Linked DNA regions of Homo sapiens: regions 2 and 3 are each linked to region 1. Evidence: fine-mapped expression QTL. A gene starts in region 1. Each other region holds a variant in brackets. All regions are shown on one strand. Distances are from middle to middle.

Region 1 (8,000 bases):
AACAGCTTCTACAACATACTCTCCTGTGATCGGCCATCTCTGCCAATGCTTGAGTCAATTGGACCACAAGTAATATTCAGCTAATCAGAACTCGGCAATCAGCACTCAAGAATCAACTAGAAATGGTTCTTGCTCCTGCTTCCTGCCTTTCTCCACCTGGGAAGATGTCCCCTGTGGACTAACTGCCTTACCCTGGCTCCCTTGCTATCCAGCTTCCTGCTGGGTGTGGCCAATGGGAGGCCCTGGCTGAAGATGAAAGCAGTGGGGAGAAAGAGGCGGGGGTGTTTCTTCCACACTCCCTCCATTCCTCACTGCGGTTCTGCCCATGGCTGTGTTTCTCCTGCTTGGGGACAGGGGTCCCCCTTTCATAGCACCAGCTTTCACTGGGCTCCAGAACATCACTTCCTCTTCTTTCCCTTTGGACATGTGAGTGGTAGTGGCTTCCTGTGGTTGGTGCTAGTCTCTGGGTGCTTTACCAGCCTTCCTAAACAGTCCCTGTATTAAACTCTCTTCAGTTGAACCCTTTCTGAGTGTGCCATCTGTTTCCTGCCAGGACCCTAACTAATACAAATCATAATGAGTGACTAATATAAAATAATAAGGTGTTAATCACTGCAAAGGTGTCTGGGTAGAGAGAACGTGACTAGGCCATTGCCAGGCCAGAGAACAGAAAGCAGGTGGTACAGACAACTCAATGTAGGCAATTTGCATATGGTTTTTTCCTTGGGACTGGCTGGCTCTGGAGCTACCACTGGAAGAATGGACAGATGGGCAGGGGATCTGGACCCAAGAAGGCTGTCACTGCCCCTGAGGAGGCAATGATTCCTCTGATATGCAGCTCTGGATCTTGGGGGTGGAGGGCATTGGGTGTTTGCTGAAACGGTTTCCAAAGCAGATAGGGTTGGCAGCCTTGAAAAGGAGCTGCGTGGCCTTGGGCAGGTCACATCCCCTCTCTGGACCTTTTCTGTCTGTTTAATAAAGGACCTGGCTTGATTTCTAAAGTTGTTTCTAGCTCAGGGAGTTTGGGAGGTGAGTTTGGGAATGTGGGAAATGTCAGCATCCCCTCCCCAACAGGGAGGCTGGAATTCAGCCCCTTTCCTGCAATGTGGTGCTCTTGTATTCTTGCCGGCAAGTAAGGGGACTCAGGAAGGCTCAAGGCTGGGCCCCTCACCAGTAGAGAGTACTCACAGCTGCCTCCAGGCCCTGCAGAGCCACAAGATGGACATGGTGGCTTTCCTTGACAGTCATCTTTATTCGAATATTTGGGGCCTTCACCACTATTTTTAATGAAAACAAGCACAAACACATGATGGAGTGTGCAGGCTGCAGGGGCTGGGAGTGGAGAGTTTGAACAGAGTTGGGCCTTGGAGCCCCTCCTGCTCTGAGACCAGGTCTGGGCTTGGGGAGGGAAGGTGGGTTTGACTTCCTCTGGTCTCGGAGGGAGGAGAAAGTCAGTGCTCCAAAGGCCCTCTCAGCTGAGCCCTTCCTGTCCTGCCCTGGTGTTGAGGAAACAGTGCTTGAGGTTTCTGGACCATGGTCCTTGGGCAATGCCTGTGTCTCACCCTGATGCAACCCCAGGAGGCTCAGTGGTGGGCAGTGTGGTAGGGAGAAAGGAAGTGAAAAGGGGGGAGGGAACTGGGCCCAGCTCAGAGGCTCTATCCCCCTGGGGAAGGGGTTGGCAGGGCAATTGCTCCCCTTTCTCTAATTCCAGGCCCTCCCCGGCTGCTAGGCCCTGGGGAAGAGGGAGTCTGGTTTCAAGGGTGTCCTGAGCAAAGCCAGTCCAGGAAGGGTTGAGATGGGGTGGTGCTCTAGGATCTTGCCCTTAAGGGACCCCCCTCACTTGCCAGAGGATGTCAGGGTGAGAAGGGCCCGGTGTCCACCTGATCTCAGTTGGCTTTGTACCTCCCCTGGTGGAAGGGAGCTCATGCTATGCCAGCAGGAAGGGCCCTGGGCTGCCTTCCAAGGTGGGGTCACAAGGCCAGGAGCATGCCCAAGGACCTGGGTTATGTCCTGCCAGCCTCTGGGGCTCCCATCCTGGGGAGTTCACTGGCTCCAGGGGGACTGGGCCTGCACAAGTTCACTTAGTAATAACATGATGCCTCAGCCTTCCTCTGTTGTAGCCTTCCCTGCCCTTAGAGCAAGGGCTAAGGGCCTCCAGAGAGCCCGTGACTTGGATCAGGCCACCCACAAGGCCCCCAGGACTCCTGGCTCCCATTGAGTCCTGATACCCTGGTTCCTGACCCAGTCAGACTCTGAGTGTCCTCTGCCTCTCAGCCTAGGAGTCACCTATTAACCCAAGATCCCTAAAGTGCCAGAAAAACCCCTGGAAGCTTCAGCTAGACTGGGGTAAACTGAGTAAAATGGCTGTGCTCTTCCACTCCTGTGATCCCTGGTCCTGGCCACGATCACCTCTGCTCCTCCATCACACAATCACTCACTCACTCATTGGTTTGTCCATTCAGATAAAAGTGCAGTAAAACCTTCTCCACGCCCAGCTTTGTGCTAGGGTCTCAGAAACATCAGAGAGAGGTTTGTAGTTTCGCTCTGGAGGGCAGAACAGCCGGAAGAAGAACCAACTGCTGGTTATCTCAGGCTGGAGGTGGTAGCTGAAGGGGGTGTGGACAGTAAGGATTTGCCGGGAAAAAGGAAGGGTCAGGACATTTCGTGAAGTGGGAGGACTTGAGCTGAGCCCTGAGGGATGAGAAGAATTAGGAGGGGAGAGACATTCCAGTGGTGCCAGCAGTGCTGGGTGTGGGTGCAAGAGCAGAGGCACTAGAAGTTAGGGTGCATCAGAGTGTCCTGCAGATATCCAGGCACCAGGGAGGGAGGGCGGGTGCACAGCCAGGCGGACAGCTGAGGCCTCTGCCGGAGGGGAGCTTGCAGGATGTGCTGTGGGGCACGCCAACAGGTGTTGCCTGCATATCTGTGTGTGTCCCGGGGTAGGGATGTGCTGATCTTGGCGTGTAGTCCTGCACCTGTTCTGTGTGTGTGTGTGTGTGTGTGTGTGTGTGTGTGTGTGCGCGCGCGCATGCACTCAGGGTGCCTCAGGCTCTGAATCTACAGTTAAACTGGCTCCAGCTTGCCTAGCTCTTCACAATGTCAGATTTCATTCATTCACTCATTTACTCACTCATTCCACAGCTGGGAGTGCCTACCACATACCAAGCCCTGGTCTGGCTGGAGGATGTAGGGTACAAGTCTCTGTCCCCAGATCACTCAAAGGCTGGTGGCTGAGGGCAGATGCAAGCCATGGTAACGTCTATCACGCTGTTAGAGGTAGATCTACTTCTTAGGCTGCGCAGCAATAATAATTTCTCTCCAAAAGGACTGGGGGACGGTAGAACGGGCTTTAAACTGCCGATCAAGTGGAGCTGACTCGCTGGGACGCACGCTGGCTCCCCACCCACGGGGCCGGCCTCCGGGAAGCCCCTCCCACGCGGCCCTCGGAGAGGCAGTTCCCCCACACGGCCCCCCGGGGGCGCTGCGCGAAGGGGGCGGGTGCCTGGAGCACGGCGCTGGGGCCGCCCGCAGCGCTCACTCGCTCGCACTCAGTCGCGGGAGGCTTCCCCGCGCCGGCCGCGTCCCGCCCGCTCCCCGGCACCAGAAGTTCCTCTGCGCGTCCGACGGCGACATGGGCGTCCCCACGGCCCTGGAGGCCGGCAGCTGGCGCTGGGGATCCCTGCTCTTCGCTCTCTTCCTGGCTGCGTCCCTAGGTAAGGTCGGGGGAGGCGGGGCGCTGGGAAAAAGCTGGGAGAAGACAGCAGACTGGAGTGGGAACTGTGGGATGGGGGCGTCCTGGGGGCCCTCTCAGCCTGTGTGACCGTGCACCCCACTCCACCCACCGCCCAGAGGCTGCTGGGACCCCTAGGCAGGGTGCAGTGGCAACTGTGCCAAGTGCCCCAGCTAGGCATCGGGCACATCTGCATGCTCTGACAGCTGCCCAAGTGGCAGGCAGGGCTGTCCCCTGAGGGCTGCCTGTCCAGCCCTTCCCTGCCCAGAGAACCCAGGGCACAGGTAGCTTCTGCAAAGAAGGAGAGGCACAGGGTGGGGGCGGTCAGTGTGTTCTGGTGGATATCACTGGCTTTTGACAGCTGGCATCTTTCTGCCCCTCTAGTCTCAGGGCTCTAGTGTTGCAGAGGACACAGAGGGCGTGGTATGCTCAGCCAGTGCCCCATGCCCTGGTGAAACCCCTGGCTGAGCCTTGGTGGGCACTGGGCACTGGTCACGGTGGGTCCACTTTCAGACACAGAGGCAGCACTGCCCACCTGGTCCCTATTCTAAGGGTCTGATGGCCCAGGAATAAGTGGTCAGCTGATTCCTGCCATCCTAGCAAGGCTGCCACTCAGGGACCAGTGTGGAGTACTGGGGAGGATGTGGGACACTCTTCAGCTCAGCTATGAGCCCCTTCTGGGTCCCTGGATAAATTACGGCATCTCTCTGGCCTCAGTTTCCTCAGCTCAAACACAGAAGCCCACACAGGGAAGCACCATTTTCCCCTTCCAAAGTCCAGACTGTCAGCATGTTCAGATAGTATCCTGGCCCCAACACAGGGGCTCCCGGGCTGGGGGCAGAGGCCCTGGTACCCATGGCCTGGTTGCCTAGTTCTTGCCTGCCCAGAGCTGAAGAGGCTGGATCTCTTCAAAGAGCCTGTGGAACCAAACTTTATAGGGAGGGCCCAGGGAAAGTATGAGTCATGCAGGGACTCGGAGGGAGGCAGGAGGGAGGTGGAGGGCTTGGCACAGGGACCCAGTGGGCAGGATGGAATAGAAGGAGAGGGTGATAGGATAAGAGGGAGAGGAGGAGGCTGAACCTGGAAGATACCTTAGCAACCTGGGTGCCCACAGGCAGCTGGCTATCTCAGCACTTGGAGGCTGGCCTGGGCCTCTGAGGAGGAGGAGGGCTCCACATGTCACAGACACAGCTGCCCTAAGCCCCAGGGTGGATGCTTCTCAAGGTGACAGTCAGAGGGAGGAGGAGAATGGGAGGTGGAATGGACAGTCTCAGCACCAAGGCCATGGCTCATGGCAGGGCATGGCTTCCAGAAGGAACAGAGGATGGTGGCAGGCAGGCAAGCCAGCATCCCACCTGTCATGGGCCACCTGCCCTGCACTGCCCTCCCTGGTGGCCCTGTGAGACCCTTCCTGCTTTCTTGCCCACTTCCTGCCCTCACTTGGCTGGGCTGCCCTCTGTTCAGCAGCCCCAATTTGAGAAACATTTCTAGAGATCCAGGGCACAGGGACCCAGCTTGCAGAGCACCCAGTAGCAGAGAGGCCCCAAGAGGAGCTCAGGACGCCTTCCCCTATATTGCTTATATGGCCAGGGGCCTTTACTCCCAGAGGTCTTGGCTACTCAAACAACATGGTATACTAAAGGGTCATCTCTTCCTGGGCCCAGCACAGGGAGATGATTTAGGCTGGCTGCAGCTTTCCACTGAAAGGAGCCAGAAGCATTTGAATTGCTCTGGGACCTCAGGATTCTGAACTGTGACATGGACACACTATAATAGATATTCACCCAACTCCCTAGGACAGTGTGCACTGAGGGAGATAGCAGATGGGAGGCCTGGTTGCAGGCATGGTCAGCAGGATCTGTAAGTTGAGAAGATTGATCACCAGCCTGCCGAGGTGCTGGGTTGCCCTGGGTATGTTGCCCAAGGTCAAAGCCTTTATGCCAGGGAAAGTGAGATAGAGTGGCCGGGGCCAGCCTGTTCTCCAGCTCTTGGGGTTGGGCCAGCACTGAGGAGAATGGTAGTGATGAATGTGGTGTTCAGAAGCCCAGGAAACACCAAAGATACCCCTTTCCTGGGCCTGACTCAGGGTGAGATGGGTGGAGAGGTACACTTAGGGACCAGGACCCAGCAGATCTCAAGGGTAGCAGAGCCTCTTCTTCCCCACAGACATTCCCAGGACCCGAGGCAGTTACTGTCCTTGCCCTGTCCTCACAGGCTGACTCAGGACTCCCAACCTCTGGGACTAGCACATTTAAGTGCACTGGGGCTAGGGACGAGAGACCCCATCTTCTCCTTCATAGCAAACCAGGCTGCAGGGCCTTGTTGAGTAACCCAGTGCTGCAAGCCTCTGACGCAGCAATGGTCAGCTCTTAGGAAATCCACAACCCACTGCCCAGAGGCTCTGGAGTAGAGAGGAACAGCCTTGAGGCCAGTCCCTGGCATGAGGGGTCATCTACCCAATGCCAGGGACACCCAAGGGCCAGCAATACTGGGAGTCCCTTGCTGAGCTGTACTAGTTGTTCATGCTTCCACCCAAGCAGGGCAAAGGTTCCGCTGGGGTCTGACCTTCCTGGGAGAGGGTGGTCCAGGCAGGAGTGTGCTGCTGAGACGCTAAAGGGGTCACCTCCCTATCCGCACACAGTGTATGGGGTGTTAGGCCTGAGCAGATGAAAGGAAGAAAGGGATCCTCAAGGAGAACCCGTTGGCAGTGAGCGAGCCCCACATACCAAACTTGAGGCCCCAGGCTTTAGCCAACCAATGACCCAGGGTCAGTCTGGTCTCCCAGGGGAGGGTGGGCCAGGGATCAGCACTGTGGCTTCCAGTGGCCCCACAGATGCCCTTAGCTGCAGTCCCAGCATGCCTGTATATGGCAAAGCCAGGGACATGCATGCCAGGGCTTCCGTACAGCCCCTTGCTTAACTCTTGGGCTTTGTGAGTCACTCAGACCTAGGCTTAAATCCCAAGATGGCCATTTACTGCTCTGTGATATTGGACAAGTTATTCAGTCTCCCTGAGCAAGTTCCCCTCCCTCTAAAGTGGGAAGATGATACCACCTCCCTTGGAGGGCAACTGTGAAGAGCCAATGAACGAACACTTAACACAGCACCCGGCTCCTCGTGAATACTGTGTAATATTATGGTATTTCTTGGCTTCTGCAGGCCACATGCCATTGGCTTTCTATCTAAGCTGCTTGCTCTCTACAGGGCCTAATGGAGTGCCCAGGGCCTGGGAAGGCATTGGTGAGCTTCACTGGGACTAGATTCTCCAAAGCCTGGAGTATGAAGGGTGCATGGGCTGCGTCCAGCTACCTGTGAGCCCCTGTAGGCCCTCACAGTCTGAAATGCCCATGGAGGTGCCTACAGGTTCTCTTCTTAAAGTTGTCAGGAGATGGGGACATTGCAACTTGAAGGCAAGCCTGGCCCTGGGTTTGCTTATCTTGGTGGATCTTTCTTACATCTGATCTTTTTACATTCGGTCCATTCACTTTGGCTGGCCATCACCAAAGACAAAGACAGTGGCCACCATCTTTCTCATCAGTAATCCAATAATGAGGTTGCTCTGCTACTTACCAAGCCAAGCAAGCCCATTCCTTTAGCCTTTCTGCGTAGGATCTTATTTCCCATGGGGACCTGGGGTCAAACCCTGCCTCTGCTGTTCACTCATCATGGGAACACAAACACACACTTCCCCTTTGTCTGTGCAATGGACAGGTTGGGTGACGTGGTCTCAGTGAGGCTGACCACCCTCCTCTGAAGGTTAATTCCATGATGGTGTTTCCCTAGCTTCAGTCATTTGCTTATCACCTTTGTGATCTCTGCAGTGTCTGCCTTTCATAATATTTACTTATTTTTTTCTTTAAATCTACTCATTCTTTTATTTGAGTATGTAGATCTTTAAAAGGAAACTTTTTATCGCTGTCATTAGTGGAAAGCCAGTATCACTTGTCATAAATAGAACAAAACCATAAAAGAACGTAACAGGAAAACCATATAAGGGTATTGAATTCTAGTTGGAAACTTTAGCCTGGGAAGGCTCGGAGTCTGAAAACTGCTGCTTTCCCTTGCAAAAAATTAAAATAAAATAAAATTTAAAAAGAAAAGGAGATTAGCAAATGTTTTAGAGACATATTAGCATCAAACTGAGACTTTCTCTTTGATGTAATCAGGACTGAAATAATTGTAAAGGGAATAACCTCTTCTATATATGATTCAATGTTATTTAATGTAAAACCAAAAGTAAAACTATGTGGTAGACGTGGCCAGGCAAGCTG
Region 2 (8,000 bases), 40 kb after region 1:
AGTCCGCCCATTTGAAATGGGAAAAACAATACCTATCACACTGTTCTCAGGGTGAAAACAGACAAGGGTCCTTGTGATCGGATCCCTCCCAAACCCCCTCACTCTAGCTAAGGCCTCATTTAGACTCACCGTGTTTCCTCACACCACAGGGCTTTTGTGCTTGCCGTTCCCTCTGCCCGAAATGCTCTTCCTTTTTAGGCTGGGTTAACTCTCATGCATTCTGACGCTCTCAGCTTGAGTCCCTTCCTCAGGGAAGCCCTCTTCTAGTTCCCTGACACCTTATTATAGGCTTTCTCTCAGGGCATACATTTACTGCTGTGATCATTTGATCAATGTCTTTCCCTCACTGTATCGTACACTTAGGAAGGCAAGGGATATGTCTAATTTTGGTTTCTTGCTGTAACCTGAACCCAGCCTAGTGCCTGGGACACAGCAGGTGTTCCCACAATGACTACTGCTCTGATCTTGGTGAGGCTGCAAGGCAGGGGTGAGGGGGGCTGCTGGACTTCCCAGTGGAAGGGGGTTGGCCTCAGTGGGTGAGGAAGGAGGACAGGTTCCCAGGCCTATGGGAATGAGATGGGTGTCTGTGTCTTCACCCAGGGCCTCACAATCCACATTGCCCTCCCCTACCCCCTGAAGGCCTGAACTTACTCAAGAGCTCTTATAGCAGAGCCATGCCCTACCCAGCCTGCCCCTTCTGGTCTGCCTGACCACTCCTTCTGGGGCCGGCCAGGGCTGCTGGGGACAGGGAGGAGCCAGGTGGAGGTGAGCTGTGGTTTGGGTTCCGGCCTAGCAGAGGAAATGTTTCCACCTTTAAAGGGCCCCTTCCTCTGCCTCCACCCTAGCACCTCAAACAGTGTTTGGGGCTACCGGGGCTGGTGGATCTGGGGCAGCGGCCCCTGGGAGCCTCTCAGAGGAAGCCAGGGCAGAACAAAAGGGGGTGGGCCCTGCTAACCGGAAGAGGGCAAAGCACTGTGGAAATACAGGGGCACAGGCAGAAGTGTGTGCTCCGAAGCCCTCAACAGCCGTGCTGAGGAAGTGGCTGGCAGTCCACGCAGGGGGACCTCCTTTCCATCCCTGCCACCCTTGGGCTCCCACTGGCCTCTCCTCCCAGCCTTCTCGCAACACCTGCTGTGTGAGGGCCAGGTGGGCCCATTGTATGAATGAAGAGGGTGAGGCTCAGTAAGAGGGTCCCACTTTACCCCTGAGTGTCTGCCCCTTGGCTGGGAGTGGCAGGACGCAGGTGGCTCGGCACCCACTGCCCGAGCGCTCTGCTCACCGGCTGCCCTTGGGGAGCATAGCTGAGGGGAGCTGTGGAGACTTCTTGCCCATCACAGCCTCACTCACCCCCAGGCTGGCCCCACGGATGGAGGGGGCCTTTAGGTATGGCCCAGCCACAACCAGTGCCGCTAGAACTGGGCACCTCCAGGGAGCCTTGGGGCCAAGAACCCCAAGAAATTGTGTTTGGCTCTTGGCTTGGACACTGAGTTGGCTTCTAGCTTTTTTAGGTTAATGTGACAGGGACTCAGCAGGGCGTGGCAATGTGGCTGTAACCAAGGCTGATGAGGAGCCTGATGCCCCAGGTGGTCTCTAGATGGTAGCTGATGTGACTGGCCAGTGTCCAGGCCAGATTGATGGCTGAGTGTCCTGGGATCACCACAGGATGCCATCCCATGGACCTCTCTCAGGTAGCTGGCCCTGGACCCACTCCCATTGCAACCCCAGCATGAGCTCCCCTGCCTGCCTCTCCCTTCAGGCCGGGCCGCCTCTTCTAGGAACGTTGTCTGGCTCTTCTGACCTCAGTGGGCCCCCCTCCCCCAGGGGCCCAGCACATGGTCTTCTCTGCCTTTACTTAGAGGCTGTCCTGAGGGAGAAACAACCTGTGCCCATGGTCCCCTTCCTAAGCGCTCCCAGGCCCCACAATGTGCATCCCACCCCACACACTTGCACCAACCCCCAGGAGAGGGAGGGGGTCCCCTTTATGGATGCAGCAGCTGAGGCATCAGGACAGAGCCCCACTGCAGTCACATCTGCTTCCAGGACTGGCTTACAAAGGGCTTTCTGCCTGCAATCTCTTGCTGCTTCCATCTCATCCTCTGAGGATGGCAGGGATGCTGGCATGACCCTCGTTTTAGACCCGAGGAAGGGAAGCACAGAGACGTTAAGCAGCTTGCCTGTGTCACACAGCCATCGAGGAGTGGAGCTGGGATGAGCCCTCAGTGGTCTTCCAGTGACTCCTTTGCTAGTACTCTCCCCACCCAAGACCCTACCGGGGCTAGGCAAGACACAGAGGACAGAGTTGGAGGCAGGGGACATGCCCCAGAGGGGCCTGAACTCAGGTGTGAGAGTGGAGGCACTGGGAGGGGGCCTGCTGCAGGCCTGTCCACGTGCCTTCTCTCTGGGAGAGGTGGGAAGGTCCAGGGCCAGGCAGAGCCCGGCCAGCACTGGCCACAGCCAACAGCACAGGGGAAGCTCCAGCCACAGGCTACTCACCTTCTGTAGGCAGAGGCAGCAGCAGGAGGGGAGTGAGAGAAAAGGCAAAGATGCAAATGGTTAGCCGTCTGTGGCTCTTCCAGACCCCACTCCCGGCAGTGTCTCTGGAGGTGCCACCCTCCACCTGCCTGAGGTCTCATCCTAGCCCAACCTGCTGGGAAGGTGTGGCATGGCTGGACATGGCGAAGCCTCAGGCTATCAAGACCCTCGCCCGCTGCCTGGCCCATACATTGGGTGGCTGGCGAGGACATGGGTTAGGAAGTGTCATGGCCAGCGATGGGCCGCACCTGAGGGACTCTCACCCTGGTCCCACTCACCACGGTGGAGTCCACCTTGGGGCCGCCGTCATCTGCCACCACTGTCAAGGTATAGAAGTCGCCCTTCTCACGGTCCACCAGGCCCTGGACTGTGATCACACCCTGCAGGGAAGGGGCCAGATGGGTGAGTGACAACATCGCACCCTTGTTAACCCTGGTCATTCTGCCCACTTTTCCACCTCCATGTCACTTCCTCTGTCCGGCATAACTTCCCCAGGACACTCTGTCTGTTGAATTCCTTCTTCTCTCTCACATTCCACTGGGAAGCCACCTCTTCCATGAAGCCTTCCTGCTTCCCCAGCCAGGTATGACTGCTGGGCCCTGAGGGGCTCCACTACCCCTCTGTTGTAGTTCTCTGCACATCTTCTTGTGGCGCTCTGATTTGCATCCTGGATTAGTTCCATTTCCACTTCTAGCCTGAGAACTCTTTGAGGACTGAGAAGGGTCTTGTTCATCTTTGTGTCCATTTGTGTTCCCAGTATCCTCTAGGACAAGGCCTGTCACGTTGTAGTGATTCACACCTTGCCTACTTTCAAAGAAGGAATTCTGATAAAAGATACACTAAAGCAAAGA[C/T]GAAGGAGTAAGAGCCTGGCAGTAGATAAGAGACTGGTGTACCAGACAACTAGCTAAGAATAACTATTGCAATGAAGCCCAGCATTTATGTCTGAGCTTCCTAACAGCCAAGGTGAAAAGGGAAATATGACTTGCAGAGCTTTCTGTGACATTGTGATATAAGAAATATGCATTTGGTCTCTGTCCCTGGTTCCTGGCACAAAGCTCTTAATCCCCTGGCATTTCCTAGGTGATAGGAGTCTTTTGTTCTAATGAGGCAACTCTTGGTGGGGTCCTCGGTTGGGGCTGATCACCAGAAAGACCAAGCCAGGATAAACAGCTTGAAATGTTCAGCCCTGCCTCTACACCCTTTACTTTCCAGGAAGAGGACAGAGGCTGGAGATTCAGTTAATAATTGATCGTACCTATGTGATGAAGCCTCCATAGACATCCCTGAACTACAGAGAGCTTGCAGTCTGCTGAACATGTAGGGGTGCCTGGAGGGTGGCATGTCCGAGGAGGGCACCGAAGCTCTGGGCCCCTTCTCCCATGCCTTGCTCTGTGTGTCTCTTCATTCAGCTGTTTGTTGGTATCCTTTAGACTATCCTTCATAATACTTTGGTAATAGTAAGTAAAGTGTTTCCCTGAGTTCTGCAAGCTGCTCTAGCAAATTCATCGAACTTGTGGAGGGGGTTGTGGGAACTCTGATTTAGCCAGTTGGTCAGAAGCATGGGTCAAACAACCTAGAGGTTGTGATTGGCAGCTGAAGTGGAGGCAGTTTTGTGAGACTGAGCCCTCAACCTGTGGGATCTGACACTATGGTGTCTACTGGAGAATTGCGTGGTGTGTGGGAGGGACTGAGCTGTGAGCCTGTGGGATCTGACGCTAACTCCAGGTAGAAATGTTCAGAATTAAATCAAACTATAGGATTCCCAGCTGGTGTCAAGAGAGTCAGATAATTGGTTGCCGATAATGGGGGAAAACCCCACACACACTTCGATGACCAGAGGTGAAGGATCTGTGATGGGTGTGAAAACAGAAGGAAAAACAGAAGGATACCAGCCTGCATAGGTATAAACTTTATCTTACTCCTACATATGAAAATGGATGTGTTACAGGGATATTGATCTCGGGGACTTTTTTTTGTTTCTTTGTAAGAGACAAGGTCTCACTCTGTTGCCCGGGCTGGAGTGCAGTGGTGCAAACGCAGCTCACTGCAGCCTCCAAACTCCTGAGCTGAAGCAATCTTCCTGCCCCAGCCTCTCAAGCAGCTGGGACTACAGGTACCTAACACCACACTTGGCCATCTCAAGGACATTTTATGACAAAGAGGAGAGTGCTGTGCACACAGAAGGAGCTCAACCAATGTTGGTTAGATTGGAAGAAATGGTGCTCCCTGCCCCCAGCCCCTCACCGTGATGGCGTCTATCTTGAAGAGGGCTTTGGCCTGGGTGCTGGTGTAGGCGTTGAAGCGGTACGTGATTTGGTTGAGGTTGTCGATGGAGTAGGCCTGGACCCGCACAATCTCAGTACCCAGTGCCAGATTCTCCAGGATGGCAGCCTCGTATGAGGCATTGGAGAACTGCACGGCCTCGTCCAGCTCGTTGAGCAGAGTGATGTAGACGCTGCAGAAGCCCTGGTTGAAGGGCGGGGCCTGGTCAGTGGCCGACACATTCATCATGTAGCTGGTCTTGGTCTCGTAGTCCAGGTAATTCACGGTGATGATAAGCCCTGTGCTCTCGTCAATCTCAAACTTCCCCTCTGCGCCCGACAGGATGCGGTAGTTCACCAGGCCACCATCCCCTGTAGGAGGACACAGAGGCTGTGCAGTCCCAGATAGAACTGAGTGGGGCTGCGCTGTGGCTTCTCAAGCTGCCACACCCATACCCCCTGGGTGGCCCACCCAGCATGGGCTGCCCCACCTCTGCCGGCAGGATCATCCTCAGAGATGCAGCAGAGGATGTGTTAAGGTCAATGTGGATGGCAAGGTCCAGCATGCACTGTTGAGCCTTCCTCTGGGGCTTGGCCTTGGCACCAGAGATAGGACAGAAAGAGTTGGGTCTGCTCCTGGAGCCTCAAAATTCAAGCTCATGTACCTCCCTTTGATATCTGGACATACAAGCATTGGGGGAAATGAAGGATCTCTTGTAGTGGAGGCTTTGATCTAGAACGCATCCTCACAGATGGCCAAGCCTTGGTTTGGTCCCTTCGACAGAAGGGCTTCAGTGTCAGGGACACCTTCCCCCATCCTCCCCACTCCCTACGCCCCAAATTCCTGTGCCTTGAAACAAACCATTCAATCAGGAGCTAGAGCTGGGATTCCTAAGCTGAAGTTCACAGACCTCAAGGGGCCACAGCCGCGTATGTGCCCTAAACTCTCCTAACATGCCTGAGATTCCGCCTGAGAATTTGCAGCCATTCCTCCCTCCACCCCATCCCATGCATGCCACAGATAATCTGAGGATGCTGAGAGAGGAGTTGGGAGCCACCAGAGTAGCTGACATGAAGGATGAGCAGCTCAGGGAGCCTCTCTGGGGGACAGTGGGTCTCCAGAAAATGCTCCTTTTCAGCTGTATCCCTGACTGGGGTACAGGCCAGACAGCCCAGGCCGCACGGAGGGCCACAGAGACCCGGCATGCTTCCCCTTCATTTTGCACTGCGGGCTGTGGCCGCCTCTGGGGCTTGGGCCCTCAGCAAGGTTCAGGCTGCCTTCAGGCTACTGCCCTGCGGCACAGGAAGGGTACTGCCCCTTGTACAGGGTCAGGGGGTCTGCGTGTGCTAGGCCCTGAGCTGGTCCTGGAAGGCGTGGAGGGGCTGGAGGAGCAGGCCAGGCCGCAGCCAGCTTTCTGACCGGTCCTCTTTACCCCTCCCAGCTCTGCCCAGCCCCTCTCTAAAGGCTAGTGGGAGCTGCTGGGTCCTGGGATGACGGAGCTGGACTTCTCAAGCTTGTGGCCTCCCCTCTGTCCACCCAGTGGTTGGGACAACTCTCCCTGATTCCAACCCTCTCAGGCTGGGGCCACTGGTGGGAAGTGATCAAGACCATCCCAGCAGCCCCTCCCTGGCCTAGACATGGCTAAATGGGGAGCCTGAAGCATCAGGGATGACCGTTTCGAAGGAGGGGCTGGGTGAGCTGGGGAGGTTTGCTCTGAGCAATGGGATCCCCGGCTTCCTCCTGCCAGCCTCACCAGAGTCTCGGTCTGTGGCTTGGACCACGATGACTGACGTTCCAATGCCTGCGGTCTCTCGAAGCCCCAGACGGCTGTACTGCTGCTGTGTGAACACGGGGGCCTCATCGTTGATGTCCTCCACGTACACAATCACCTGTGGGAGCCGGGCCAGGGGTGCAAGGTCAGGGTGGGGTGGAGGCTGGGAAGCCCAGGGCTTGGCCCACTGTGGCCGCCTTGTGTGGTCACTGCTTTCCTGGGCCTGCTGTGAGCTCCCTCTAGGACCCCAGGCCTGTCTGGTGGGTCACTGTGACCACCACCTTGCACAGCACCTGGCGCGTGGCAGGTGCTCAAACATTACTTGTTTCGGAATGAACTTCATCTTGCTCTTGGCTTTTTGACTAATGCTGTGGAACATCTGACTAATTAGTGACTCTTTGGGGCCCCCAGTTTCCCAGCTATAAAGTGGTAATATTAAGATAATAATTCGGCCGGGCGCGGTGGCTCACGCCTGTAATCCCAGCAGCACTTTGGGAGGCCGAGGTGGGCAGATCACGAGGTCAGAAGATCGAGACCATCCTGGCTAACACGGTGAAACCCCATCTCTACTAAAAATACAAAAAATTAGCCGGGCGTGGTGGCGGGCGCCTGTAGTCCCAGCTACTCAGGAGGCTGAGGGAGGAGAATGGTGTGAACCCGGGAGGCAGAGGTTGCAGTGAACCAAGATCGCGCCACTGCACTCCAGCCTGGGCAACAGAGCGAGACTCCATCTCAAAAAAAAAAAATTAATAATAATAAAATAGTTCACACTCCATGCCACTCCTAAGGTTGTTATGAAGACAAAATGAGCCAGGGCCTGCAAAAGTTCTTGAAAAAATTCAAAGTGATCCCAATCAAATATTAAAATATATCTTGGAAAATAGAGGTGAAAATACAATGGCAGTTGTAGTAGAGAATGTCAGTGCTCAGTACTCTTTACTTGTGCACCTTCTCACGGCCAGCTCCCAGCCCCTAAGGCTCTTTGGGGAAGACCAACCCCACCCCACTGCACCCACACCCGGGCTGTTGGAAACCAGCCCAGTGAGCAGAAATGCCTGGGAACTTCCGTCCCCTAGGGCAGCCCTGAGCCAATGATTGATGGGCGTGGAGAGCAAAGACTCCAGCTTCCCTGGCCCTGTTTGGGGCAGTGAGGGGACGCTTTAGGGCTCCCTGGGGGACGGAGGCCTAGCTCCCTCCATGACACTTTGCTGTCTGTTTTTCCTTGCTGGTTGCACCCTGTTCCACCTTTTCCTGTGGGCGCTTCTTACACATTACTTTCACACCAATCCTTGTCTCAGGGTTTGCTTCTGAGGCCCCCATCCAAGGCAGTGGCTGTTTCTGAATTGTGCAATTACGCACCATTTTCCTCACCGCTTACCAGCACTAAGTTCTCTTTATGAATGTGTGCACTGTACATCATGAACGTAATACAGTT
Region 3 (8,000 bases), 25 kb after region 1:
AACCCCGGCTTTGAAGCCTCACCACCTGCCCAGGGGATACCCGAGGCCAAAGTCAGGCACCCCCTGTCCTATGTGGCCCAGCGGCAGCCTTCTGAGTCTGGGCGGCATCTGCTTTCGGAGCCCAGCACCCCCCTGTCTCCTCCAGGCCCCGGAGACGTCTTCTTCCCATCCCTGGGTAAGTGTTTCCTGACCTTCACAGCACGATGACCTGTAAGGTCATGACCTCATGGCCTGCAGGGCATCGGCCTCACTCCCTGCCCTCCCTGAAGAGTTCCACGGCCTCACGGGGTGGGGTTGAGGGTGAGGGACAGAGGGGCCCCCATTCACCTCCCTGAAGAGTTCCACGGCCTCACGGGGTGGGGTTGAGGGTGAGGGACAGAGGGGCCCCCATTCACCTCCCTGAAGAGTTCCACGGCCTCACGGGGTGGGGTTGAGGGTGAGGGACAGAGGGGCCCCCATTCACCTCCCTGAAGAGTTCCACGGCCTCACGGGGTGGGGTTGAGGGTGAGGGGCAGAGGGGCCCCGTTCACTTTGCTTCTCCTTTTCTTGCAGACCCTGTCCCTGACTCTCCAAACTTTGAGGTCATCTAGCCCAGCTGGGGGACAGTGGGCTGTTGTGGCTGGGTCTGGGGCAGGTGCATTTGAGCCAGGGCTGGCTCTGTGAGTGGCCTCCTTGGCCTCGGCCCTGGTTCCCTCCCTCCTGCTCTGGGCTCAGATACTGTGACATCCCAGAAGCCCAGCCCCTCAACCCCTCTGGATGCTACATGGGGATGCTGGACGGCTCAGCCCCTGTTCCAAGGATTTTGGGGTGCTGAGATTCTCCCCTAGAGACCTGAAATTCACCAGCTACAGATGCCAAATGACTTACATCTTAAGAAGTCTCAGAACGTCCAGCCCTTCAGCAGCTCTCGTTCTGAGACATGAGCCTTGGGATGTGGCAGCATCAGTGGGACAAGATGGACACTGGGCCACCCTCCCAGGCACCAGACACAGGGCACGGTGGAGAGACTTCTCCCCCGTGGCCGCCTTGGCTCCCCCGTTTTGCCCGAGGCTGCTCTTCTGTCAGACTTCCTCTTTGTACCACAGTGGCTCTGGGGCCAGGCCTGCCTGCCCACTGGCCATCGCCACCTTCCCCAGCTGCCTCCTACCAGCAGTTTCTCTGAAGATCTGTCAACAGGTTAAGTCAATCTGGGGCTTCCACTGCCTGCATTCCAGTCCCCAGAGCTTGGTGGTCCCGAAACGGGAAGTACATATTGGGGCATGGTGGCCTCCGTGAGCAAATGGTGTCTTGGGCAATCTGAGGCCAGGACAGATGTTGCCCCACCCACTGGAGATGGTGCTGAGGGAGGTGGGTGGGGCCTTCTGGGAAGGTGAGTGGAGAGGGGCACCTGCCCCCCGCCCTCCCCATCCCCTACTCCCACTGCTCAGCGCGGGCCATTGCAAGGGTGCCACACAATGTCTTGTCCACCCTGGGACACTTCTGAGTATGAAGCGGGATGCTATTAAAAACTACATGGGGAAACAGGTGCAAACCCTGGAGATGGATTGTAAGAGCCAGTTTAAATCTGCACTCTGCTGCTCCTCCCCCACCCCCACCTTCCACTCCATACAATCTGGGCCTGGTGGAGTCTTCGCTTCAGAGCCATTCGGCCAGGTGCGGGTGATGTTCCCATCTCCTGCTTGTGGGCATGCCCTGGCTTTGTTTTTATACACATAGGCAAGGTGAGTCCTCTGTGGAATTGTGATTGAAGGATTTTAAAGCAGGGGAGGAGAGTAGGGGGCATCTCTGTACACTCTGGGGGTAAAACAGGGAAGGCAGTGCCTGAGCATGGGGACAGGTGAGGTGGGGCTGGGCAGACCCCCTGTAGCGTTTAGCAGGATGGGGGCCCCAGGTACTGTGGAGAGCATAGTCCAGCCTGGGCATTTGTCTCCTAGCAGCCTACACTGGCTCTGCTGAGCTGGGCCTGGGTGCTGAAAGCCAGGATTTGGGGCTAGGCGGGAAGATGTTCGCCCAATTGCTTGGGGGGTTGGGGGGATGGAAAAGGGGAGCACCTCTAGGCTGCCTGGCAGCAGTGAGCCCTGGGCCTGTGGCTACAGCCAGGGAACCCCACCTGGACACATGGCCCTGCTTCTAAGCCCCCCAGTTAGGCCCAAAGGAATGGTCCACTGAGGGCCTCCTGCTCTGCCTGGGCTGGGCCAGGGGCTTTGAGGAGAGGGTAAACATAGGCCCGGAGATGGGGCTGACACCTCGAGTGGCCAGAATATGCCCAAACCCCGGCTTCTCCCTTGTCCCTAGGCAGAGGGGGGTCCCTTCTTTTGTTCCCTCTGGTCACCACAATGCTTGATGCCAGCTGCCATAGGAAGAGGGTGCTGGCTGGCCATGGTGGCACACACCTGTCCTCCCAGCACTTTGCAGGGCTGAGGTGGAAGGACCGCTTAAGCCCAGGTGTTCAAGGCTGCTGTGAGCTGTGTTCGAGCCACTACACTCCAGCCTGGGGACGGAGCAAAACTTTGCCTCAAAACAAATTTTAAAAAGAAAGAAAGAAGGAAAGAGGGTATGTTTTTCACAATTCATGGGGGCCTGCATGGCAGGAGTGGGGACAGGACACCTGCTGTTCCTGGAGTCGAAGGACAAGCCCACAGCCCAGATTCCGGTTCTCCCAACTCAGGAAGAGCATGCCCTGCCCTCTGGGGAGGCTGGCCTGGCCCCAGCCCTCAGCTGCTGACCTTGAGGCAGAGACAACTTCTAAGAATTTGGCTGCCAGACCCCAGGCCTGGCTGCTGCTGTGTGGAGAGGGAGGCGGCCCGCAGCAGAACAGCCACCGCACTTCCTCCTCAGCTTCCTCTGGTGCGGCCCTGCCCTCTCTTCTCTGGACCCTTTTACAACTGAACGCATCTGGGCTTCGTGGTTTCCTGTTTTCAGCGAAATTTACTCTGAGCTCCCAGTTCCATCTTCATCCATGGCCACAGGCCCTGCCTACAACGCACTAGGGACGTCCCTCCCTGCTGCTGCTGGGGAGGGGCAGGCTGCTGGAGCCGCCCTCTGAGTTGCCCGGGATGGTAGTGCCTCTGATGCCAGCCCTGGTGGCTGTGGGCTGGGGTGCATGGGAGAGCTGGGTGCGAGAACATGGCGCCTCCAGGGGGCGGGAGGAGCACTAGGGGCTGGGGCAGGAGGCTCCTGGAGCGCTGGATTCGTGGCACAGTCTGAGGCCCTGAGAGGGAAATCCATGCTTTTAAGAACTAATTCATTGTTAGGAGATCAATCAGGAATTAGGGGCCATCTTACCTATCTCCTGACATTCACAGTTTAATAGAGACTTCCTGCCTTTATTCCCTCCCAGGGAGAGGCTGAAGGAATGGAATTGAAAGCACCATTTGGAGGGTTTTGCTGACACAGCGGGGACTGCTCAGCACTCCCTAAAAACACACCATGGAGGCCACTGGTGACTGCTGGTGGGCAGGCTGGCCCTGCCTGGGGGAGTCCGTGGCGATGGGCGCTGGGGTGGAGGTGCAGGAGCCCCAGGACCTGCTTTTCAAAAGACTTCTGCCTGACCAGAGCTCCCACTACATGCAGTGGCCCAGGGCAGAGGGGCTGATACATGGCCTTTTTCAGGGGGTGCTCCTCGCGGGGTGGACTTGGGAGTGTGCAGTGGGACAGGGGGCTGCAGGGGTCCTGCCACCACCGAGCACCAACTTGGCCCCTGGGGTCCTGCCTCATGAATGAGGCCTTCCCCAGGGCTGGCCTGACTGTGCTGGGGGCTGGGTTAACGTTTTCTCAGGGAACCACAATGCACGAAAGAGGAACTGGGGTTGCTAACCAGGATGCTGGGAACAAAGGCCTCTTGAAGCCCAGCCACAGCCCAGCTGAGCATGAGGCCCAGCCCATAGACGGCACAGGCCACCTGGCCCATTCCCTGGGCATTCCCTGCTTTGCATTGCTGCTTCTCTTCACCCCATGGAGGCTATGTCACCCTAACTATCCTGGAATGTGTTGAGAGGGATTCTGAATGATCAATATAGCTTGGTGAGACAGTGCCGAGATAGATAGCCATGTCTGCCTTGGGCACGGGAGAGGGAAGTGGCAGCATGCATGCTGTTTCTTGGCCTTTTCTGTTAGAATACTTGGTGCTTTCCAACACACTTTCACATGTGTTGTAACTTGTTTGATCCACCCCCTTCCCTGAAAATCCTGGGAGGTTTTATTGCTGCCATTTAACACAGAGGGCAATAGAGGTTCTGAAAGGTCTGTGTCTTGTCAAAACAAGTAAACGGTGGAACTACGACTAAACCCTGGGTCTCCTGCTTCCTCCTCACTGAATGGATTGGTATTATGGGCCAGGGCCTGGCTTGGCCTTCACCTTGGACTTGCTTAGAGCACATACAAGGGCTCTG[G/C]GAGATGAACTTGTGCCCACAGGTCCAGGGCTCCACTGTACTGCACACCAGAAACGTTCCTATCTGTGCTCTGCCTGCCCTGGCCTGGGCCTTCTTCTGGGTCCAGAAGACGCTGCTGCTGATGGGTAGGCTCCTTCCATATCAGCTCCTGCCACTCCCTTTTCTGCCTGCCAACTGTGGAGCTAGAGGACTCCTGATAGGCACAGTGGCCCATGCACCCCTCTTGCTTGCATTAGGGGATGGGGAAGGGAGAAACCCTCAGCAGCTGAGCCCCAGGGTCTCTTGGAGGAACTTAGCCAGTTGTATGTGGAGCATCTGGGCAGCTGTGGAACATCCCTCAAGAAGCCAGGCCAAGGGAAGGGTCTGGATGTACTTGTGCTGGGTCAGGGAAGGCCAGCCTTCTTGGTGCCACAGAGGGTGAGGGCCAGGCTGGGACCTTCTGATCTCAAGCCAGGGGAAGCAGAGTTCACAATAGCAGGGTCCAAGTCTAATAAACAGAAGGGGCCTCTGCTCTAAAGACATGAGGTGTACTGCCAAGAGCAGTGTCCCCAGCTCATAGACCGTCACGGGGCCGCTGCTGGGGACTTGCATACCAGAAGGGGGCGGTGGGAGATTTCTGTCCTTCTGCCTGGATAGGTGACTTCTGCAGGTCCTCACCAGCCTGAGAAGCCAGGGCTTCTTATCTGGAATAGTAGTATCGGTTGGCTGCAATTCACGTGGCAGGGAGGCCACAGTTAGGCCCTCCCTCCCTCTCCACCCCACTGCCAAGTGCCTCTGAGGTTGGGCTAACTCCTGACCTCCCAGTTACCTTCCGCCCTTCCTCCCTGGGCCCAGCTCTTCCTTTGCAGGGGCCTCCCTGACAACCACTTAAACCCCTCCCCCAAGCCTGGCCTGTCTTCCCATGGCCTGGAGCTAGGCAGGGGCTGAGGCTCCACAATGACTCCCCCGGCCAGTGGCACACCATTGTGTGGCGGGCCTGGGTCTGGCCCAGATACCCCTTGCAGCACAGCTGTTCCGAGTTCGGGTGATATGGGCTGAGGCCGGATGGGGGTGGCCTAGGCTGTTTGCAGGAATGTCCAGCTCTCAGGAACCTGGGGGGACGAGGGTCTCAGGGAGAAAAGTAGAGCTGGAGGGACTCAGAGAATTTCTCTTGGCTCTGGGGAGGGTCTTAGCAGCCAAATCTCAGGCCCCCTGCTTAGGGAGCCACATCTTTCAAAACAGGGATGCAAATGATGCTTCCTCCAGAAAACCTGCCCTGGCTTCCAGGCTCCTAGCACTCTACCACATCACAGTGTCAGCTCTCCAGTACATGTGCCTTCCCCTGCCAGACCGTAGGCTCCTGGAGGGCAGACCTGTGCCTGATGTATCTCTGGTGTCCTAGCCTGTACTACAGGCCTCACACATAACACATACTTGGTGTTGGATGAACAAATGAATGAATCTTTCATGCCCTTGTCCTCCAGCAAGGTTGGTCCTGAGCCAGTGAAGGCCATTTTGAAGCCAGGCAGATAACTGCAGTGGGAGTAAAAGGATGGCAAGTGGGCCTGCTGGCTTTCTCTGGATGGATCTATGCAGGGTAGCAGCTGCTGTCTCACCCATTAGACTGTGGCAGCCATTCCTGGAATCTCAGGGTGGTTGGCTGCATGCTGCTCAGGTCTCTGGTTGCTCTAGGAGGGGCTGGGACAATGCTCCTTCCTCATACACGCATCCAGTGAAATCTGCCCAGAGGCAGAGAAGGGCTCTGCTCTTGGGGATATTCATAACCCTGAGGGGTTTACTGCCCAAAGTTGAGGGTCTGGTCAGTGGAAGCAAATCTTCAAGGGTCCAGTGCTCCTTGGAGGCAAGCTACCCTGGTAGGCACTGTGGGCTGCAGGACCCCTGCTTGCTAGCTCTGCCCCATCCCCACCTTGGCTCGGCCAGGCATGGAGGCAGTAGAGGGGGGGTCTTGAGAAGGCAGCGGGAGCAGCTCTTATGGCGAGTCCCATATACACTGTCCCGGGAGGATATGGAAATAGAGAGTCCTGCCCTTGGCCTTGGAAGCAGCCCCGGGCCTAAACCACCTGTGGCTCCCAGAACCCATCCCTGATTATTGCTTGCTCTTCAGCCTTTGTGCAGGCTGAACCCCAGAATATGCTTCTTTCTTGGCTGTGCTAACCAAGACTGACCAACAAGACTCGGCCCAGGTGTCACCTCCTCCAGGAAGCCTTCCCCAAGCCCTTCTCAGTGCCCCATTGCACACCAGTGTTTTCATTGCCTCCCTTACTCAACTTCATTTCTTCAGGCCACAGACCACATTTTCTTCATTTCGGTATCTCCAGTGCCTGGCACATAGTGGCCATTCAGGGACAATGGCTGAATGAATGAATGAGTGAATGAGTGAATGAGTGAATGAATGAATAAATATGGTTTAGTGCTAGTTTCTCTATGTCCCTATGGTCACTGCAATTCTTCACTGAGGTGTCCCCTGCAAAAACCAAATGATAGCAATATTTTCCCAACTTGGAGAAGCAGGGGGAAAAATTGAAGATGGATGGATTCTTTTCGACTTAAAATTGTTTTCCTATACATCTTTCAAGTTGGTACCTGTTGCTGTTTATATTACGGTCTGGAAGAAAGCATCATGGTTCAGCCCAGGAAGCCCCATATATATTCCCCTGGAGATGGATGGCCTCAGGGTCCCTGGTCCTAATCATCCTGAGGGTGTTTTCTGGGGCCTCAGGGAGCAGAGCTGGTGATGACCAGGATGAGCAGGGCGGATGCTACCCAGCTTCTCCTGCTCTCACCGGGGAGCTGGTATGGGCTGAGCCCTGCTTCAGTGAGAACCAGAATGTCAGGGGCTGACATGTGAGGTGGGAATGCTTATGCTCCCCAAGGGGTGGGATGGGTCCCTGCAGAGGGTTTGGCCAGCAGATGGAAACTCTTTTTAGCCATGGGGACCAATCCCAAGATTTTAAAGGATTGCTTGGATAGTGGCCCATGCATTCTGGGTGATTAACTGTGGCCAGGGTGATTTTCCATTTCTTCAATTCCCATTTATTCTGGGGACCCAAAGGAAGCCTGATTTTGCCTACAAACTGCAGGGTCTTAGAATGTTATGGATTCCACCGATGGTCTCCCTGAGAGACCCTAGGACTGTGGGGGTTGGAGTGTGGGTGGGGAGTGGGGGTGGTGCGTTGACTGGCCTGCATTAGGATTGGGGAGGGCAGTGTGGCAAATGCTGTCAGATGCCCACCCCAAATCCATTCTCCACTTCTTCCTCACTGACAGAGGCCTGCTTTTGTGTGGGAAGTGATATATCTGGCCCCCAAGTAATATGCTGACCATGATAATCCTGTCCCTCATTTTTTCTAACCTCCCTTGCAGCTAGGGTGCCCACGTGAGCCACTTCTGGCCAAGGAGACACAAGCAGCACTCTGGAGGGTGGTTCTGGGAAACCTGTTGCTTTCCTGATAAAAGGGCAGAAGTAGCTGCCATAGCCCTTTGCCATCTTTTTGTCATCTTCCTGCCTTGGATGCTGACTTGATGCCTAGAGTTATAGTAGCTATCTTGCCACCATGAGGGAAAGGCCAAGAAACATGAGCTCTGACACCTCTGAGCCTGAAATCCACA

The links. PIP is the estimated chance that this variant, and not a neighbour inherited with it, causes the effect.
Region 2: its variant is fine-mapped to the expression of VSIR in whole blood (TOPMed, PIP 0.93).
Region 3: its variant is fine-mapped to the expression of VSIR in whole blood (TOPMed, PIP above 0.99).

The regions. Positions count from the first base shown.
Region 1 is chr10:71,769,071-71,777,070 of GRCh38, reverse strand. It overlaps VSIR (V-set immunoregulatory receptor), which reads left to right and starts at 3,551. Exons shown (of 7, transcript NM_022153.2): 1 at 3,551-3,713. The coding sequence starts at 3,632. All of the region lies in intron 38 of CDH23 (cadherin related 23), which reads right to left. RefSeq lists silencers at 3,322-3,651, 3,672-3,751.
Region 2 is chr10:71,729,152-71,737,151 of GRCh38, reverse strand. CDH23 (cadherin related 23) reads right to left here. Exons shown (of 70, transcript NM_022124.6): 31 at 6,548-6,683; 32 at 4,777-5,165; 33 at 2,811-2,912; 34 at 2,494-2,496. It also overlaps a transcript of C10orf105 not described here. Among named protein-coding and RNA genes, the nearest start is that of C10orf105, 13 kb to the right of the region's middle. RefSeq lists a silencer at 7,471-7,662. The variant C/T (reference allele first, on the strand shown) is at 3,384.
Region 3 is chr10:71,743,843-71,751,842 of GRCh38, reverse strand. The region is part of intron 38 of CDH23 (cadherin related 23); the gene reads right to left. VSIR (V-set immunoregulatory receptor) reads left to right here. Exons shown (of 7, transcript NM_022153.2): 6 at 1-175; 7 at 553-4,287. The coding sequence ends at 590. Among named protein-coding and RNA genes, the nearest start is that of VSIR, 26 kb to the left of the region's middle. RefSeq lists enhancers at 2,871-3,000, 3,201-3,250, 3,636-3,845. The variant G/C (reference allele first, on the strand shown) is at 4,392.